4 separate regions of the Homo sapiens genome follow, and regions 2, 3 and 4 are each linked to region 1. Evidence: fine-mapped expression QTL. A gene starts in region 1. Each other region holds a variant in brackets. All regions are shown on one strand. Distances are between the middles of the regions.

Region 1 (5,155 bases):
CATTTCTGGGATTTGAAGGGGCCCCAGCCTAAAAATCATAAGAAAACTAAAGTACTTGCATGATTTTAAGTAAATTATGGAATGCAGGCCGGGCACGGTGGCTCACACCTGTAATCCCTGCACTTTGGGAGGATGAGGCGGGCAGATCACCTAAGGTCAGGAGTTCGAGACCAGCCCGGCCAACATGGTGAAACCCCAACTCTACTAAAACTACAAAAATTAGCTGGGCGTGGTGGCACATGCCTGTAGTCCCAGCTACTTGGGAGGCTGAGGCAGGAGAATGGCTTGAACCTGGGAGGTAGAGGTTATAGTGAGCACCACTGCACTCCAGCCTGCCTGGGCAATAGAGGGAGACTTCGTCCCCAAAAAAAAAAAGGAAGAAAGAAAGGAAAGAAAGAAAGAAAATCCATTTGACCCATTTGCTGGGAACATTTTCCTAGAAGTGGAAAAGGAAAAATACACATAACACTGGACCAAAAGGAGAAAAAGTAATCATAGCACACTATTGGGACCTGCTATAAACAATATTTACTGTTTACATTATTATCGGTTTTTCACCTTTAGACCAAACCTGCTAAGTCTTAAAAAAGGCCAGGTGCAGTAGTTCACGGCTGTAATCCCAACACTTTGGGAAGATGAGGTGGGCAGATCACTTGAAGTCAGGAGTTCGAGATCAGCCTGGCCAACATAGTGAAACGCCATCTCTACTAAAAATACAAAAATTAGTGGAGGCAGGCGCCTGTAATCCCAGCTACTCCAGAGGCTGAGGAACCAGAATGGCTGGAACACAGGAGGTGGAGGTTGCAGTGAGCCAAGATCGCACCACTGCACTCCAGCCTGGGTGACAGAGTGAGACTCTGTCTCAAAAAAAATAAAAATAAAAACATTGAAAATTTAAATATGGTTACAAAAAAACAGAAATGCTCAACCCTGTCAATGTAAGAATAAAGGCAGGGCCATCATATCAGAAAGCAAAAAAGGCATAAAGAAAAACTTTATTTTTCTAAGTGAAGCACTAGGGAGAAATAGAAGATTCACTCACTGCATTTGTTTTTATTTCTTTTGGGAGATCTTTTTCTTTTCTTGTTTTTTGTTTGTTTGTTTGTTTTGAGATGGAGTCTAGCTCTGTCACCTACGCTGGAGTGCAGTGGCGCGATCTTGGCTCACTGCAACCTCCACCTCCCGGGTTCAAGCGATTCTCCTGCCCCAGCCTCCTGAGTAGCTGGGACTACAGGCATCAGCCACCATGCCCGACTAATTTTTGTATTTTTAGTAGAGATGGGGTTTCACCATGTTGACCAGGCTGGTCTCAAACTCCTGACCTCGTGATCCGCTCCCCCCTCGGCCTCTCGAAGTCTTTTTTTTTTTTTAGACAGCGCCTCGCTCTGTTGCCCAGGCTGGAGAACAATGGCGTGATCTTGGCTCCCTGCAACCTCCGCCTCCTGGGCTCAAGTGATCCTCCCACCTCAGCCTCCCCAGTAGCTGAGACTACAGGTGGATGCCATCACGCCCAGCTAATTTTTGTATTTTTAGTAGAGACTCCTGACCTCAAGTGATCCGCCCTCCTTCGCCTCCCAAAGTGCTGGGATTACAGGCGTGAGCCACCGTGCCGGGCAGGGAGATCATTTTCTGCACCCCAACAATATCAAAGAAAAACATGCAATCAATTTAAACTCAGGAAATCTTACTTCAGCTCTATGCCCTCATTAGTACTAATACCATATTTCTTTATTCGAATGTCTACTGGTAATTTATCTTTAAAATCAAAGAAACTTCTCCCTGAACCAGTATTTTTAGAAGAAAAAAACATAAAGATGTAAATTTTGTTTGGTAAGAACTAGTTTCTATGAATCATCTAATGAATTAGTACTTCAATGACTTGCCAATATTTGTCCTTAACTCCCTTTCATAGGTTGGAGAAAGTATGGCTAACATAGATAATTTTACTGAGGTCAATTATGAATAATGAGGGTTGTTCATCTCTTCTACCCACGATTAAGATAAAGAAATGCCTAGAGAAAGACAGTCCTTTCAAGGACTTTGAAACGAGCAGCTTTTAGCCAAGACATACTAACGTGATGGCGCATTTCCTTGCATCAGTATTGTGTTATAACAGACTTGGCCATCTTATCAGAAAGCAAAAAGTATATAGCAAAACTTTACTTTTGTAAGTAAGGCATTGGGAAGAAACAGAAGATTCATTGACTGCATTTGTTTATATTGATTTTCTCAAAATCAGTTGTTTATTTTCAATGACGACGCCTCTACCGCCACCAGGTCAACAAAAACGTACTTGCTTTTGCATTTCCGGGACTCTAGCATTTCAGAGCAGGAATTAAAGGCCTTGCCAAGGCTTTTAAGCGATTGATGGAAACAAAACAAAACACAGAAGGATAAATTTTGAATTTGCTAAGACAAGAATTCGCACCAAGGCAGACATAAGACATGAGGATGTCTTCCTGACTTGCGTCCTTGGCTCGAATCGTTCTTATTAGCCCTTTTCAAAAGGCAGCTGTGACCTCCATTTCTGGCTAATCAGGCCACTTTTGTTCCCCCCGAGGCGTGGGAGGACAACAGTTAAGCCCTAACAGCCTGCGAAGCAGCTCCTCGACGAACGGCGGCGTCCCCGTCGCCTGGGCAGTGGGTGTGGGAGGTGACAGCCTAGTCCTGAGCCTCTGGAGCGGGCCTATACTGCACCGCCGTACGTGAATTTCAGGAGCGCGCAATGCCGCCACCTGGGAAGGGTGCAGCGAGGCTGACCTGAGTTTGCCCGCCGGGGTGGACGGCTCTCCGGGGCCCCCGGGGTCCCTGGGGCCCCTCCGTGCGCCGCCCCCTCCCGCGCAGCCCTGCACCCTGGCCCGTCGCGCCCGGTTCCGCGCCCTTCTAGGGGACCATGGCGACGGTACAGGCACGGACCTGCACCGCAAAACCCAAAGCAAAAGCAACTTGCCATGGCGGAGGGGAGACGCGCCCTCAGCGGCCGCAGAAAGCCCACAACCAGCGGAACGCAGGCGATGGGGAGAGGAGCGAGCAGGCAGGTTTTGGTTTCGTTTTTTGTTCCAGCTCCCTTGGAGGCTACGAAGAAAAGGGCGGTCCTTCCACCCGATCCGGCTGTTCTGCGACCTCGTGGCCTCTGAGTGGGAGCTCGGACTCAGGAGTGCTGTTGCCAGCGCCTGCCCAGACGCCCTCCGTAGTTTTGCAACTTGTGGAAGCACTCTGGAGAGAGGCCGAGAGGATTCCTCGACAGGAAATTTGGGAATTCTCTGGGTGATGCATCAGTGATTGCAATTTTGTTTTTACCCGTTTTGCTAAGCAGCAGCAACAACGGCAGAGTTGATTTAAAAAAAGAAAAAACGCAAAAAGGGAAAACACATAGTAGGTGGTGGCCGCTTCCTGTGTTGATACTGGGGGGCTACGCTTTTCCTAACATCAATCATCTCGTAGTTGCAGAGAGCCCTAGATGTCATGATAGTTTTGAATCGCATGCATTATCATGTAAGGGAGTTAAATATCTTGCATGCATGCTCTCTTCTGTGTTTATATATTCGATGCCATGAAATTGAAGGGCATGTGGCTAAAACCTTTTTACTACATGAAACTTTACAACACTTTTGAAAACATTTCAATTTGGTTGATGCGCACTGTAATATTTCTCCAGATAACTGTCCAAAATTTTCCATGGAGAAGGCTTTTATCCTCATTAGTTGCTGGCCTCAAACTAACCATCTAGGATATTAAACTTCTGCCAGAATTTTACATCCAGCTACCTTTACTTTTTAGAACGTATTCTCTATCATGTTATTGATATCAATTTCTACTTCACACAGATGGTTTTTTACAACAGCAAATCAAGTTTTTCTAACATCAGTTTTAAAAAGCCCTGCACTCAGTGAAATCTGGATGTCTTTCCTACGCCCTTATTATCTGTCCAGACTTCTTCCCCTTCCCCCACCGCTCACCTGGGCCTTTTCCTCTGCACAACCTACCCCAGTTCCCCAACCCCCACCTCAACCCCCAACGCCGTGTTGGTCACCTTCCCAGCCCAGACCAGGAGCCCTCTTGGACCTCTGCCGGGTGCTAAGGACACAGGATGAGAGCGCCAGGTCCCTGCCAGCAGAGAGCTCACCACCTTGTCCATGCCTTAGCACAGGAACCCCGAATGGCGCCTGTGGGGACACAGGGAATCTCTGGACAAACTTCAAAATCAAATCAATGAATGCATGAAGAACAAAGGTAGATGGCTAGCAGATATGAAGAAACCCAATCCCACTCCTAAGAAATGTAAATTGAAATAATAAGATACCATTTTTCACAACTAGATCTGCAAAACCAGAAAGTGTTAGCCTGAATGTAAGCATCAGAGTTGCTGCAAGCATAGATGGATGCAAATACTTCTAAAGATTTTTATCAAAATGTAAAGTGCAAAAAAATGTAAAATGCACATATTCTTAGTCTCAGCAATTCTACTTTTAGAACTGAACTTGAAGTTATAGTGCGCAAATGGCACTAAGATATTGTATAGAAATTTTAGTTGTACATTGCTTGAAATACAGGTAGTAATAATTTTTTTATAAACTGGGATCCACCTAGTTTATCATTGGATGGAGCTATTTGTTATACGGCTGATGATATATCAGTAAGGCACAAGGCTATGAAGATTTTAAAACAGAATGAGGTAGGGGGAAGTGGCTCCCGCCTGTATTCCCAGAACTTTGGGAGGCCAAGGTGGGCGGATCATTTTGAGCTCAGGAATTCAAGACCAGCTTGAGCAACATGGTGAAACCCGTCTGTACTAAAAATACAAAAATTAGCCGGGCGTGGTGGCACACACCTGTAATCTCAGCTACTCGGGAGGCTGAGGCTAGAGAATCGCTTGAACCCGGGAGGCAGAGTGAGCCAAGATCACACCACTGCACTCCAGCCTGGGCGAGAGAACAAGACTCTATCTCAAGAAGGAAAAAAAAAAAAAACAGCATGAGGTAGATCTGTATGTAATTCCCCAATTTATATTTTATCTCCAGATTTATATATCTAAGTGCCCACTTGAATGTCAAACAAGCATCTGAAATTTAACAAGTAGAACTCCAGAGCAAGACTCTGTCTCAAGAAAAAAAAAAAAAAACAGAATGAGGTACATCTGTATGTAATTCCCCAA
Region 2 (5,155 bases), 47 kb before region 1:
TAATAAATTAGCTGGGCAAATAATTTTAAATTGGAGATCATTTTCTATTATAATTTTGAAGACATTTCTCCATTATCTTAGAGTTTCCAGCATTGCTGTTGCAATATTGATGCCATTCTAACTTTGAATTCTTTTTTATCTCTCTTTGTAAAAAAAACATAAAATAAAATTGGTAGAGTTCCCTTATTGTCCCTGGTGTCCTGAGATTTCATCATGCTGCACCATTGTGCAGTGAATGAGGTGGACCCTTCAACCAAGAAATTCATGTGCTTCAGTTCTGCATAATTTTTGTAATTATTTTGTTGATGAATTCCTCTCCTCTATTTTATCTGTTTTCTCTTTGTAAAATTCCTATTATTTTGGATTTTAGGTTTCCTGACGTTGTGCTCTAATTTTCTTATCTTTTTTCTCTCATTTTTCATCCTTTTTCTCTTTTTTCCACTTTCTGAGAAATTATTCAGCTTTACATTTCAACCATTCTTTCAGGTTTTCCCAACAACTCTTTGTTTTTGTTTTTACTGATCTTTTTGTTACAATTATTCTATTCTTGCTTCCTGTATGGAATCTCCTATTCTCTGAGGTTTTGTTTTGTTTTTGTTTTTGTTTTCAGATAGAGTCCCTTCTGTTGCCCAGGCTGGAGTACAGTGGCGCGATCTCGGCTCTCTGCAACCTCCACTGCCCGGGTTCAAGCGATTCTCCTGCCTCAGCCTCACAAGTAGCTAGGAATACAGGCACACGCCACCATGCCCAGCTAATTTTTGTGTTTTTAGTAGAGACGCGGTTTCGCCATGTTGGCCAAGCTGGTCTTGAACTCCTGACCTCAGGTAATCTGCCTGCCTCAGCCTCCCAAAATGCTGGGATTACAGGCATGAGCCACCATGACCGGCCTTCTCTGAGGTTTTAAGTGATAGTTTTTGTAAAGTTATCTTATCCCTGAGTTGTTTGGTGTTTTATGTTGTTTACTACATACAAGAAGCTTTGCTCTGATGCCTGATAATTGCAGATTGTCTGTACATACTTAAGAGTGAAGCTTTACAAGTCGATTAAAACCTGGAATATTTTATATTAAATAAAAAAGGAAATCTTGTCACATGCTATACAACAAGGATGCAACTTGAGGACATTATGCTAAGTGAAATAAGCCAGTCACAGAAGGGCAAATATTGTATGAGTCCACTTATGCAAGAGATCTGAAGTGGTCAAACTCATAGAAACAGAAGTGTGGTGGTTTCCAGGGAAGAGGGGGAAATGGGAGTTGTTCAATAAGCATACAGTTTCAGGTTTGCAGGATGAAAATGTTCTGGAGATCTGTCACACAGCAATGTGAATATTCTGAAATACTTACTGAACTCTACACTTAAAAATGGTTAAGATGAAAAATTTCATGTGTTTTTTTACCACAATTAAATTTGTTTACATTTATTAAAAAGTTGATTAGAAGTTTTGAGCACAAAGGTGGGGCTGTTTTGCCATGGGCTCCAGTTCCAAGCGATGAGGACAGCTATTTCCCTAAGGAATCCCTAGCGTTAATGTCATTAGGTCTCTCCTCTTGGAAAGCCATGGGCTGCTGAGATTCCCCAGAGAATGATCATCCGAATTCCTCTCCTATAGGGTATGGGACTGGCTGCTGGCTTTCTGTGAGGTTTGTAGGGAAAGACAGTGATTCAGTGATTTCAGAATTGAGTATACAAATTTTACCTTCTTCCCTGCCTTCAGTATGGGCCCCTGTCCTCAATTGTGCTTGGAATCCTTTCTACGTTACCCCTTCCATGTTACATTTCCTGGGAATATAGCTTCAATCTTCTTCCATGATGATGGAAGAGCAAGCCGTCATACAACTCTGTAGAATCGGGACGCAGGCCTAGGGAGCTTAACTGCTTCTGAAAGAAATCAGACTACTTTCTTTGCACTTACAGAGGTATCCGCTCTAATTAAGCCTTAGGGATTCAACTCAGTGTAAATCAATTTGTTTCTCAACTTTCTCCACTGCTTAGTGAGGATTCAGTCATGTCAGATCTGCTTAATCAATTACCACTTTCCCATCTACTTATCAATTTTCAAAATTTTATTCATTTTCTCTCCCATTCTCTTGTCCTCAAGTGTTTATGCCTTAAAAAAAAAAAAAAAAAAAAAGTTTAGGCCGGGC[G/A]CAGGGGCTCATGCCTGTAATCCCAGCACTTTGGGAGGTTGAGGCAGGTGGTTCATTTGAGGTCAGGAGTTTGCGACCAGCCTGGCCAACATGGAGAAACCCTGCCTCTACTAAAAACACAAAAACAATTAGCTGAGCCTGGTGGTACACGCCTATAATCTTAGCTACTTGGGAGGCTGGTGGGAGGCAGGTGGGAGGACCGCTTAAACCTGGGAGGTGAAGGTTGCAGTAAGCCAAGATTGCACCACTGTACTCCAGCCTGGGTGACAGAGCAAGACTCCGTCTCAAAAAAAAAAAAAGTTTAGATTAGAGGGGCTTAGGGTTCGACAAGAGGGTGATAGCTATTGCCTATATTCATCCACCATCTTTACCCAGAAAAGTTGGCTTGTTTTCTATAATTTCAGACTTAATAACTAATTTCTTGGTTGGAGGTGATGTAGTGGAAAGTATCAGAAATTTAGAATCAGTCAACGTGAGCCAGATTCTGGATCTGCCATTTTCTTGTGTGACCACAAGTTAACTAGCTTCTCATATCAGTTTCTCTGTTTATAAAATGAAGATGTTAACACATAGGCTTCTTCTGAGGATAAAGTGAAAAAAACATATGAAAGTCATATGTAAAATAACATATGTAAATCTCATGTAAAACTTAATGCTTGCTTAATAAATACTCTTCTTTCCGTTCCAATATTAGTTGTTCAATTTACCTTCCACTAGCAACTGTAACATTCTGGTAATAACCTCATTCTGGGCTCAGTTTCTACAATATTATTCAAATCACACTAGCCATCCTCTACTGGCTGTACTTGCCACCTTGAGATCTGCTGTCCGATTACGACATTCAGTCTCAATTGGGTGCTGTGTCATTTTGTTGGAATAAGTGCAAATTTTAAATTTTAAAAAAATTCAAAAATGAATGCATTACTTTTGAGTCATTTAATCAAATCTACTTTTACCTTACTATTGATATTTCCAAAATTTCCCTTAAAAAGTAAAATGGACTTTGGTTAGATATCAAGATCTGGACAATTGTGTAGAACTTTAACCATCTGAGCCCAGAGTTTTGTTCATACCCTTGGAGATGCAAAGCAGCTGGTTACTGTCCTCATGTTATTACATTTTCTCCTAACCCACTCAGTGATAACATACCAAACCATCTGCAGCAAAAACATGCCAAGGTTTTACAACAAACTGGGCACTAAGCATTGCTCCATATAGACCATCAAGAAATTCACAAATCAGTGGCTTAAAGACTTTATTAAATTTACAAATATTTCTTGAGTACCTACTATGTTCCACTAATTGTCATAGGTATTTGGGATACACGAGTCAAAGAAACACATTTAAATCAAGAATCCTTGCATTCATAGAGCTTATATTTTAGTGAAAGAGATAGACAATAAACACAATAAGTAAGTTATAAAGTGTGTGTTTTTTAAATAGAGCAGGGAAAGAGGATCAGAACTGCTAGAAGAGGTATTGCAATTAAAATAGACAAGATTTCTTATGTACTCCAGAGATCACCACTAAATCAGTGATAGTTGTTTGGTCACAAGTAACAAACAACTTTAAACAGAACATGAATATATTAGGTAGATATCAGGGGACATACAAAATTGATAGCAATACCAGAGAAACAAGTCGAAAAAAGGTTAGGAATCAGGGTAGCTCCAAAGCAAGTGGAATTAATCAACATTCTCCACACCTACCATCACTGGAACGAATAATCTCCTAGCATCTCGTACCCTTTCTGCATTGCTCCAATCAAGACTGGAAGTTCCAGGAGCATCTGATTAACCAAGCTGGAGTCACTTGCCTGCTTAGTGGGTAGACAATCCCAAAAAGAAAATTTCCAGAGGGAGAGTTAATTCTTCAAAAGGAAATTAGTGTGTGTGCCAAAGTAAGGGAAATGGGTGATGGGCAACCAAAACAGTACATGTTCACTATTGCAAGTGCCAGCTCCAGAAAATCTACATAGAAGGGGTGTAGAGAAGCAATCTGATTGAAAAGAGGCAGTAGGGTACGGTTCTTAATCTGCATTTTGATAGCAATCACACTGTTTTGACTTAGATTGTTTATTTATGTTGGTAGTTTTGAAGAGTTGCTTAAGATTATTGAGCCGGGTGCAGTGGCTCATACCTGTAATCCCAGCACTTTGGGAGGCCAAGGCAGGTGGAAAACTGGAGGTCAGGAGTTCGAGACCAGCCTGGCCAACATGGTGAAACCCCACCTCTAATAAAAATACAAAATTTAGCCGGGCGTGGTGGTGCACGCCTGTAATCCCAGCTGTTCGGGAGGCTGAGGCAGGAGAATCACTTGAACCTGGGAGGCAGAGGTTGCAGTGAGCTGAGATCATGCCATTGCACTCCAGCCTGCGCAACAAGTGAAACTGGGTCTCAAAAAAAGAGATTATTAGCTAGATTAAGCCTCTACAAGCGGTGCCTGGGGCCCTCTACTGATCACAGCCCCAGAGACACCTTCTGACTGCTATTGCAGCTTGACTGAACTTATTCTAGAATCCCCAGTAGGATGAACCAGAAGAGACCACCATGTGGACTTTAGTACACTACAATGTTCTTTTAGTTCACTACAATGGCCTTTAGTAGTGAACAACAAAGCGCATCCTAGACTAAATTAAACAGTCATCAGCCCATTGGACTACTCTTTGTGTATGTTTAATTATCCAGGGAAGAATATTTCACCACTTTTCAAAAGGGGATTTGGAACATATGCTGCTATAGGAACAGTAGCATAGATTTGAATCCCCCCAAATCGTCACATGAAAACAGACAAAACAAATATACAGCAAAACCAAAAGCCACAGACAATAGTTACAACAAAACTAAGTCTTTTCTCTGATCATATTGGCAGTGGTTGTATTAGTATTAGTATTCTGAGATGATTCTGTGTATAATAAAGCAAATTAGTAATGCTAGAATATTCTAATTTTCTCATCCCTCATGTTGTTATCAGTGGAAAGTATCCATACGGGGCTGCAGCAACCTCAAT
Region 3 (5,155 bases), 72 kb before region 1:
TGTGACCTTAGGCAAGTTACTTAACTTGTCTGTGCCTTGGTTTCTTCATCTATGAAATGGGGATAATAATACTACTTAATGCATAAAGTTTTTATAAGGGCTACATTTATGTGTAGTAATGGTATTGTGAGTATCTTTCTTTAAAGTTCTTTATGTTTTTGAGAAGCACATTGAACTACTTAGAGAAAAGTGTCTATGATATCAAGAAAGTTGGGGTACAAGGGTATAGACAAAATTGTCCATGAGTGGATAATAGTTAAAAATGAATTGTCAAAAAAACTACAAATATTAGCTGGGCATGGTGGTAGACTCCTGCAGGTAAGTCCCAGCTACTTGGGTGTCTGAGGTGAGAGGACCACTTGGGCCTAGGAGGTTGAGGCTGTACAGAGCCATGATGGCAACACTGTACTCCAGCCTGGGTAACAGAGCAAGACCCTGTCTCAAAAAAAAAAAAAAAAAAAAAAAGAATTGTGCGTATATAGAGGTTCATGTACTATACATACACAGGCACCCCTGTGTAGTTTTGGAATTTTTTATAACAAAAAGTTTTTTAAATATTTTATGTAAAACATTTAAAATTATACCTGGAACATAGTAAATACCATATAATAGCTATGATTATTACAGCAAAATTCCATTTTTATATGGATCTGTATCCATATAAAATAGATCTGTATATGGATCTACTTTAATGCTATTTACATATAGCCCCTTTTTTATTTCTAGGACATAATTAAAAATAAGCAATAGAGATTTATTCTTTACATCTATAGTTGGCTTAGAAGAAAAGACAACTGAAGTCATACAAGGAACTGTTATCAAAGAAGATGGAAGGCTCATCCATCATTTCGATCACGTTGAGTTGAAGAATCTGAGTACAGTATAATAGAGAATAAAATGTAGTCAGGTAATAAAAATTAATAATATTTCACATGTATTGAGGAGATATTATGTGTGAGGTACAGTCACAAGTGGTTTCACATTTGTTACCTCATTTAATCCTCTTATCCACCCAACCTATGAAGTAGGCATCATAATAATTAGCTCCTTTTTTTTTTTTTTTTTTTTTTTGAGACAGAGTCTTGCTCTGTCGCCCAGGCTGGAGTGCAGTGACATGATCTCGGCTCACTGCAACTTTCACCACCTCCCCGGTTCAAGCAATTCTCCTCCCTCAGCCTCCCGAGTAAGTGGGATTACAGGCGCCTGCCACCACACCCAGCTAATTTTTGTATTTTTAATAGAGATGGGGTTTCACCATCTTGGCCAGGCTGGTCTTGAACTCCTGACCTTGTGATCCACCTGCCTTGGCATCCCAGAGTGCTGGGATTTCAGGCGTGAGAAAACATTGGCCAAGAGAGGTTAAGTAGCTAAAACCTGCTACATAAGACTGACACTAATGCTATATTTTTCTTTCCCAAACATCACTGGCTCAGGAACTGAGAGGTAACAAATCTTTACCAGGCAGACAAAAAAATAACATGCCCATCATCCCTCAACCAGCTAGTTACTGTAGGAGCCAACACATCCAAGCCAACAGTCTGACTCCAGAGCCCTGACCCTCAACCACATCACTATAGAAGACCTGGGTTCAAGTCCTGACTCCACTAAGGTTTTTAATCTTGTGCAAATTGCCCAACTTTTAGGTCCTCCTCAATCCTTTCACTTGCTTTGTTCTTCCTGGGTGTTTTGCCTGAAGCTATAGATGGTGCCCTTTCAAAGGCCTCAGCATCTCTGGGTTCCAGCAACAACCACAACGAGTCAGGAAAAATATCTGCAAACTCAGGATCACCAAATAACTGTCGTTAGGTACTGCCAGGGATTGCTTGTCAACACATGGCTAAAGCAGTTGCTGTCGACCCTACCTGCACACTAGAATCACCAAGGGAGCTTTTAAAAATCACCAATGCCCAATCCTACTCCCAAACCAATTAAATCAGAATCTCTGGGGATGGAGTCTGGGCACTAGAATTTTTTTTTTTAAGTTACCCAGGTGATTCTGTTGAATCCAGTGTTGACAGCTGCTGAGCTAAAAGATGAGAAAACCCATAGATAGGCACGGAGATTTAATAGAAGCCAAAAACCTAAATATTCAAGTAAATCTTTCAAAATGATGCTTCCCCATATTACTATACTCTATATCTGCTTATTTTTAAAATCCTAATTCCAAAATAAGTATACTATTCACAAATTTACAAGGTATGCATACATGTTTATGCACATATACACAAACACAAATACACATATGGTAAGTATGCTTGTGTAAGTGCATTATTTTTATACCACTACAGCCATGTATGCTATAGATCTGGTTTGGGGATAAAATTAGCATCAAAATATCAGTAGTATTTCCATTCTACCACCATACACACACACACACACACACACACACACACACAC[AGG/A]CGCGCGAACCACTTCCTGCTAGTTCTCTCTAAGGCTGGGATCTCACCTTTGCATCTTTCTAAAATTGAGGAACACAGGAAGTCATTTCAGCTGCTGACAAATGAGAATAACTTGACTCTAGGTATAGTCATATACTTTAATCAAGGAAGTAAATGCCTTAAATTTCTGCTGGTTTCCTATTGTCATTAAAATTACAACATCTTAATTTTTATAGCAACCACTGTTGGATTTTTATATAGATGTGTATTTAATAATTTTTCCTGTGTCACACAAAGAATGTAATGTGGACAACTGAAAGGGAAAAAGGCAATGGTATTCAGAGGTTTAAAATAAATTAAACATTCCTTACAGTTTTTTCTGGATGACTTCCCTCCATAAATTATATCTTTTGCACTATGCCATTTGTTTCCCCCAACTATTTCTATATGATGTAATAATTATATGCTCCATTGAACTCAAAAGCGTTCGTGAAAGGTTAGGTGAACAGAACAAATATAAGAAAATGTAAAGAAAACGCTGCAGTTTGGTCTTTGTTGGTACATAAAAAAAAATTTTAAGTGAACAGAAATTTCATGGAAAAGACAGAAGACACCATCATTCTGTTCAGGTTACATTCTACACAAAGCTCAACGTTAAGAAGACATTTAAGCCACTTAAACATGGTGTCTCCTTATTACTCATGTCTCCTTTTCCTTGCATAAGCAATGAAGAAGCACACAATGATATTAGGAAAATGTTTAAATATCATTCTTGTAGCACATAAGAACAAATGGATAATTTACACTATAAAAATTAAAGATAGGCCGGGCGCGGTGGCTCACGCCTGTAATCCCAGCACTTTGGGAGGCCGAGGCGGGTGGATCATGAGGTCAGGAGACCGAGACCATCCTGGCTAACAAGGTGAAACCCCGTCTCTACTAAAAATACAAAAAATTAGCCGGGCGCGGTGGCGGGCGCCTGTAGTCCCAGCTACTCGGGAGGCTGAGGCAGGAGAATGGCGTGAACCCGGGAAGCGGAGCTTGCAGTGAGCCGAGATTGCGCCACTGCAGTCCGCAGTCCGGCCTGGGCGACAGAGCGAGACTCCGTCTCAAAAAAATAAAATAAAATAAATAAAATTAAAGATAAAAATAAACAGGATTTAAGCTGGGCATGGTGGTGTGCACCTGTAAGTCCCAGCTGTGCAGGAGGCTGAGGCAGGAGGATTGCTTGAACCCAGTAGTTCAAGGCTGCAGTGAGTTATGATCATATCTGTGAATAGCCACTGTACTCCAGCCTGGGCAACATAGAAAGACCCTGTCTCTAAAAAAAAATGAAATACAATAAACAGGATTGGATTATCTGTCCTCATGGACCTATGAGCAATTCAAATCTCAACACATCCTTTACAACATGTCCAGTTTGTCTTAGTATCTTAGATGTTTAAATCTGAAAAAGCTAATAAAGCTTACTAGTGCAAAAGCCAGTAGGTGTCAAGAAAACCGCAACAACCTATGTACAGATTCAGCTTTCAGATAGCTCTTCCACCTCCTCCATTAGTAAGGTAAGGAATGGATGCTGCTGTGTACCTCCCTGCACTCTGCACATACTGTGCTTTAGGAACCACTTTTCAAGGTTGCCCTTGGTATTCTTTTTACTACATCAAAACTTGGCATTTGAAAGGAGGGGCAGATGAGAAAGTAGGAAAAGAAAATATACTATGATTTGCCCTGGACCTTAGCTCCCCTATGAATAGCCCAGTATACTCCAAAAGCATTTATGCTGAATTTCTAAATACATTCCTAATAGCATAAGAACTAAAATTATCTCATTGCCAAACAAAAGGCTTCTGCATTGAAATGTGACAGCTCGCTGCTCAGGCAGCTTGTTGCCAGAAGGATACACACAATTTCCAGCAGAAAATTGGTTTCAGGATTTCACCCAATAGTCCAGAAATAAAATAAACTTCCCTAGCTCTTTGCAACAGGGCAAGGCCATTGGGATTCACCCCTGCTCCATTCAACAGAGAGCCCTGAATTGCCTTCCAATGTAAGAATTCAAACAAACTAAACCAGATCATGTCTCAAATGCTATAGACCAGCATTGCATTCTGAGGCATTTCTATTTCTTCAGCGATTTTATTCACAGAATTGCTCATGACTTCAGACAGTATTGCTTAATTAAGCCCCAGTAGAACTGAATTTAAGCTTTCACCTGAGAAAATATATTCCACCATTACTCAAGAATGCAGTTTGCCACTACTGGACATGACATGAATCGTTTAGCTCTACTAAATAGAAGTTTCCCAAAAGTTCCAAGCCATTTTTTGCCTTCATAAAAGCACAACACATGTCCTTGATAGTTAGCATGTGAATATGAATAGAGAAATTCATGATTTGGTGGCATTTTCAAAAATGGACTTTCAAAATTATTTTCGTTTTTTAAAATTGCACTACCAGATGCAAATTTAGTGATCATTAAGCCTACTCTTCTCATTTTACTGATTAGAAAGGAGACCCGGAAACACCAACTGATTGGTTCAAATCAGGCAGCCATCTAAGGTAGAACCAAGACCAAAATCCAGCTTTCCTGCTTCCTTATGTCTCTTTTCAAAGGAACAGAAAAAGGACATGAAAAACAGAAGGTCTAGAGAATGCTGATTCTCTCATGAAAGACACGGCCTCCCAGGTGACTGGCTCCTATAAGCCTGGCAAAAGCTGCCAGGGGAACAGTCAGTTGTCCATCTGAACGGAAGGAGGCAACTTAAAAGATGAAAGAA
Region 4 (5,155 bases), 34 kb before region 1:
CTGGTTGTTTTAAAATATTTTTTCCAGTATATTAAAGTTTTTGTAGCAGATGGGTAATCTCGTTAGCTCAATTTACTATTTTCTAATCCCAGAAATCCTCTCTAGGTTTTTTCCAGATATGATACTTGTATTATTTTAAGTTTTTTAACAAAAATAAATACATAATTTTTAATAAAACAGAAAAATCCAATTCAAACTAACTAAATCTACAAAGGAAGCTTGCTTCAAGTAACTGAAAAGTCCAGAAATAATGTGAACTGATATAGTTCAAGCGCTGCCTCACCCTGTTTCTCTGTAATTTTCCCATCATGTGCTGGCTTTGTCCTCCAGTTAACTTTTCTCACGGAGGCAAGATCATTTGCAGCAGCAATATAAGGCCATATGCATTCTTGTTCCCTCTTGGAGACAGAGAAGTTCCACAATCATTGATCAAAAGTGTTGAGCTACTTGGTATTTGGACCACCTCAGAACCAGTCCTTGCGGTTGGAGAAACACAAGCAATAATTGGCTAAAGCCTGGGTCACCTGAACCAATCGTTGGGGCAGATGACATAGAACCTCTATTACCCCATTGGCTTAGGTCCCACTTCTGGGGCTCACCTAAACCATATGGCAGCTACACAAGAGAAGAAGTGTCCAATGAATGTTAGACAACCATAATATCTACTTTACTCTATTTAAGTTACATATCCCCCCGGCCGGGCGCGGTGGCTCACGCCTGTAATCTCAGCACTTTGGGAGGCGGAGGTGGGCGGATCACAAAGTCAGGAGATCAAGACCATCCTGGCTAACACGGTGAAACCCCGTCTCTACTAAAAAATACAAAAAAAATTAGCCGGGCGTGGTGGCGGGCGCCTGTAGTCCCAGCTACTTGGGAGGCTGAGGCAGGAGAATGGCGTGAACCCGGGAGGCAGAGCTTGCAGTGAGCCGAGATGGCGCCGCTGCACTCCAGCCTGGGCAAGAGCGAGACTGTCTCAAAAAAAAAAAGTTACATAACCCCCAACCTTTACCTATGCAAGTTGCTGTTTGAACCCAAGGATAGAACTTTACGTTTCTGCTAAATTTAGAGTTAGCTTTGCACAGTTCCACAACAGAGTTGAAGATTATCACTTGCTTTGTTTTTGTATATCGGTTCCTATTCCTCATTTTCTACTTTATATAAAGAATTAAATTTCCATCTAGTTTTTTTATTACTATGTCAAGCACAAAAGACCCAATCAAATACTTATCAAATATGCAGTTATATTTGAAATCACCTAGATATAAAAAGTAAGCTGTGTGATAGTGTCATCAAGTGTGTTTAAAGAGAACCTGGGGAGCACATCCAAAACACAAACTATCACTCTTAAAAAACAGCAGAAACTGAAGCATAAGATACTAAGTTGATTAATAGCTTAAAAAAATACCTCATATATATCAGGATTCTTGGAACAGAGAAAATAAACTATGGTTTCATACATGAGCCACAAATTAGAAATCCTAAAGTTAAGCAGTATAAATAATACATGCATTGGATGGCAATAGGGCTGCTTGTTACATGGACAACTGTATGTATTGTGCTGCAAGATGAGTAACAGCAGAGATTTATTTATTTATTTCATGGTGATTAAAGATGTTCCCTAGCTGAGATGAGTTTACCAGCTAGTAAGAAAAATTTAAGATGAGCATTTTGCACTGCTGCACTTTTTCTAAAACGTAGTTTTTTATTACTCTAATCTTCCATAATCTATAGTGATGCAGATGGCTGTCTAATATTTTGTTCACAGAGTATAAATCAGACATCAGTATTTACCCTTAAGAGACAAATGTTTTATTTTGCTATGTGAAGTGTTTTATAAATTTCACTGAAAGTGATACCCCAATGTAAATTGCTATTAAATGATATTATCATTAATAATATCATTTAGCCGGGCGTGGTGGCAGGCGCCTGTAGTCCCAGCTACTCGGGAGCCTGAGGCAGGAGAATGGCGTGAACCCAGGAGGCAGAGCTTGCAGTGAGCCGAGATATTATTAATAATATCATTAAATGATATTATCATTTAATATCTATCAAAATTAATATAAATGTAGAAGCTACATACTGGCATTTTATTATAGTCAATATTTATATTCTTTGAAGACAGCTATTTCTGGCTAAAATAATATGTAAAATAGTCCATAATTTGAGACATCAACATAGAGAAAAATGAATTGATTGAAATGAATCAAAATAGCTTTATAGAATATAAAGATGTCTGTGTATGTGAGGGGTGTGTGTGTGTGTGTGTGTGTGTGTGTGTGTGTGTCCAGGAATCAATTTCTATGTCAGTAACTACATTATCTACACAAGCCAACTTCTCTTATGTCTTCATGATATTGGGTCAATAACGGCTTCTCACCTTGTGAGATTTGGGCAATAGAGTCCCTTTCAGGCAAAATTCCACTAGTGAGTTTGCCTTATAGGAAATCAATAAGTTCCTTCCTACGTATTTTCTCTTCCATAGCAACAGGAATAAGAGACAAAATAGGCCTACTTAATGTGCAAAATATGTGCCATGCTTCTAAGTGCTGCTAACTCCAAAAGAGAAGCCGTTTTTGTTTCAGTACTATTAAGTCTTCTAACATTTTCTTGCCCTACTCTATATGGCAGGTTATATTCTTCATATAATTGCCAATTATCCAGGGTGAATATAAACATAACTCAATTGTTTAGCATAAAGATAAAGAGCAAATACAAATACCTCTGACAGCCTAACTCTGTCACTGACCAGTCACTTAATTTTATGAGCTTCAGCATATTCATTTAAGTGTATTAGGTATATACATAAGATGAAAGCAATAATAATAATACCTTTCTGCCAGGTTCAGTATTGCAAACTGACCTAAGCCAAACTGTCTATTTAGCAATTATCGGGGGTTTTTTGGTAAATGTTGAAAGCCTCCTTGATAGATTCACAATCAGAAGTAGGTGGGGGCATCTTCCACTACCCCACAATTTCCTTCCTGGTGGCATATTATAATGAAAACAAGTCTTAGACAAAATTATACCAAAATGCACCAATAATTACTAGCAAGCAAACAGACAAAAAA[G/A]CCACATAGTTTATTCTTGTAAGTTTGAGAAAGGCCTTGTCTCTGTGTTCAAGCCCTCCAAAAATCACCTTGCATGAAAGGCTCTTCATACATAGGGCCTCATTATAAGTACCTGGTCATCCTAAAGAGTGGCCAGAGAGGCCCCTGTGGAAGATACCAATGAATATGCTCTTTCATTTATCCACTCACTTACATAGATCATGGAAGAGACTTTAAACATGAGACCAAAAATTTAAGTCCAAAATTACAAAATGAGAGGATTTACTTTGTCATTCACATACACTCTGCCATAGTCTAGAAAGAGTCAAAATTTTAGTTTCAGAAAACTACAAGAATGGAACAGATTTTCATAGCTGAGCCCAGAACTACAAAAAGATACCATATTGTACATAAAATTCTAACTTCTGTTGAAATGGTTAGCATGTTTGCAAATATCTTGATGTATGATGTGTCAGATAATATGACTTGTTTTTCTGATCACCATAAATACTGAGCATAGAAAAATATACACAAAAAAACATATATAGCATTAGGAAAAACTGGGAGGGTTGCTTTTGGTTATAACTTCTAGACTGGCAGTCTTACTTGTCACATTCAATTTGTAATCAGACTTCAATGGCTTAAGCAACCAAATCTATCCTTCCATTTGGCCCCAACCCCAATAAGAAAGAGACCCACATCTAAATTTTAAAAAGATAAGAATATTCAGCACCCTCTAGAAAACACTGGAACTTACTGGATAGAGTCAGTTGTTTGAATGGCAAGATAGCTGAGTGTTCTAAAATTCAAGAAACAATTGACTCACTGCCCTCCATACTGTGATGAAACATGTAGTAGTTACCTTTCAGGCATTGGGCCAAAATGAAAACTGTCCAGAAGAATTCCTTTTGTTACTGAGCTATGCCATAACATCTCAAGAAGAATCATTGAACACAGAATTGAACAACTTTATATCCCTTTACTTAACCCAAACCTACTCCCTGAATTATCCTCAAGTATAATGAAATGAGTAAATGAGATGTTACATGTAAAATACTCAGCACAATGTTTAGTACCCACACAAAAAAACTACCCACAGCAGGAGTGAAGTGGACTAAGCCTAGCAGGAAACTTTTATGATGGCTATTCATCCCTGGAACCCAACTGAGCTCAGGAGAGGCAACAGAGTCCTCTATAAACCACAAGGACATAGGACCAAACCAAGCACTAGACCACAAAGTGAAGTCACTTGGGATAATGGATGCACTGGGTGCCAGTTAGCTTTTATCACAATGTTGAAAAAGTTTGGTTATAAAGATTATAAATCATAGATCTTAAAATGCAAATGAAGAAGAATAGCTTTACAGTGGATTACAGAATGGGTACATAAAAAATCCCCTTCTGTTTCTTCAGTAGATGGCAAGTCTGGGCTCTATTTTCCCATATTCTAAGTGAAAGTCTCTGAAAACCATGGACCTACTGAAAGAGCTCCCAATGAGGCAGTGAGCAAATATTTTATTTGGCATTACCATAAGCTTAAAACCATGCTAAGGGTGATTTAATAGCAAAATACATATGACTTTTTTTCTGCTTTCAAAGAGTTTATAAATAAAATGAGGAGGCAAGGAAAACACAAGTGAAGTAATAGTAAAAAAACTAATATTGTATATATAAACATATATATAATAAGTTTTGTACAAAAACCATAAATGCCTTAGAAGATCATGAAGAAAGAAACCAAAGAGGACAGAGTTCCATGAGAAGTCTCAGTTAAGAGGCAAGATTTCAGCATGAACCTTAAATAATGAGTAGGATTTTTATGGATCAAAGAAAAGACATTCCCAGTGAGAGAGCTGGCACAGAAGTTTGACTAAATATACAAAGACTACCCTATCACAACAGAGGTTAAATGCAAGGAAGAAGTGAGGGCTGAAATTAGAAAGAAGGGACTCCAAATATAAAAGGCCTTAAAAACACTAAAATAAATATGAATTTGTGTGGGAAGAAGTAGGAAGCCATTGAAGATGTCTAGCAGGAGCCAATTTAGTTGTGAGGCACAATATTAATGGGTATATGGTAAATTGAAAAATAGCCCACCAAAGAAATCT

Which allele goes with the higher level. Alleles are on the strand shown, and positions count from the first base shown. SD is a standard deviation of normalised expression in the study named. Not every link is listed here.
For the expression in naive CD4 T cells of the gene that starts at base 3,089 in region 1, G is the high allele of the variant in region 2 and A is the other (large effect, 1.1 SD a copy in Schmiedel 2018).
As copies of AGG replace A in region 3, the expression in CD4 T cells of the gene that starts at base 3,089 in region 1 goes up (large effect, 0.78 SD a copy in Kasela 2017).

Evidence for each region. PIP is the estimated chance that this variant, and not a neighbour inherited with it, causes the effect.
Region 2: its variant is the best candidate, but not a certain one, in a credible set for the expression of RBM43 in naive CD4 T cells (Schmiedel 2018, PIP 0.88).
Region 3: its variant is the best candidate, but not a certain one, in a credible set for the expression of RBM43 in CD4 T cells (Kasela 2017, PIP 0.82).
Region 4: its variant is the best candidate, but not a certain one, in a credible set for the expression of RBM43 in monocytes (TOPMed, PIP 0.58).

The regions. Positions count from the first base shown.
Region 1 is chr2:151,258,775-151,263,929 of GRCh38, forward strand. It overlaps RBM43 (RNA binding motif protein 43), which reads right to left and starts at 3,089. Exons shown (of 4, transcript NM_198557.3): 1 at 2,951-3,089. The coding sequence starts at 2,953. RefSeq lists a silencer at 2,633-2,902 and an enhancer at 2,943-3,172.
Region 2 is chr2:151,211,946-151,217,100 of GRCh38, forward strand. No RefSeq gene overlaps it. Among named protein-coding and RNA genes, the nearest start is that of RBM43, 47 kb to the right of the region's middle. The variant G/A (reference allele first, on the strand shown) is at 2,147.
Region 3 is chr2:151,186,885-151,192,039 of GRCh38, forward strand. No RefSeq gene overlaps it. Among named protein-coding and RNA genes, the nearest start is that of RBM43, 72 kb to the right of the region's middle. The variant AGG/A (reference allele first, on the strand shown) is at 2,398.
Region 4 is chr2:151,225,123-151,230,277 of GRCh38, forward strand. No RefSeq gene overlaps it. Among named protein-coding and RNA genes, the nearest start is that of RBM43, 34 kb to the right of the region's middle. The variant G/A (reference allele first, on the strand shown) is at 3,069.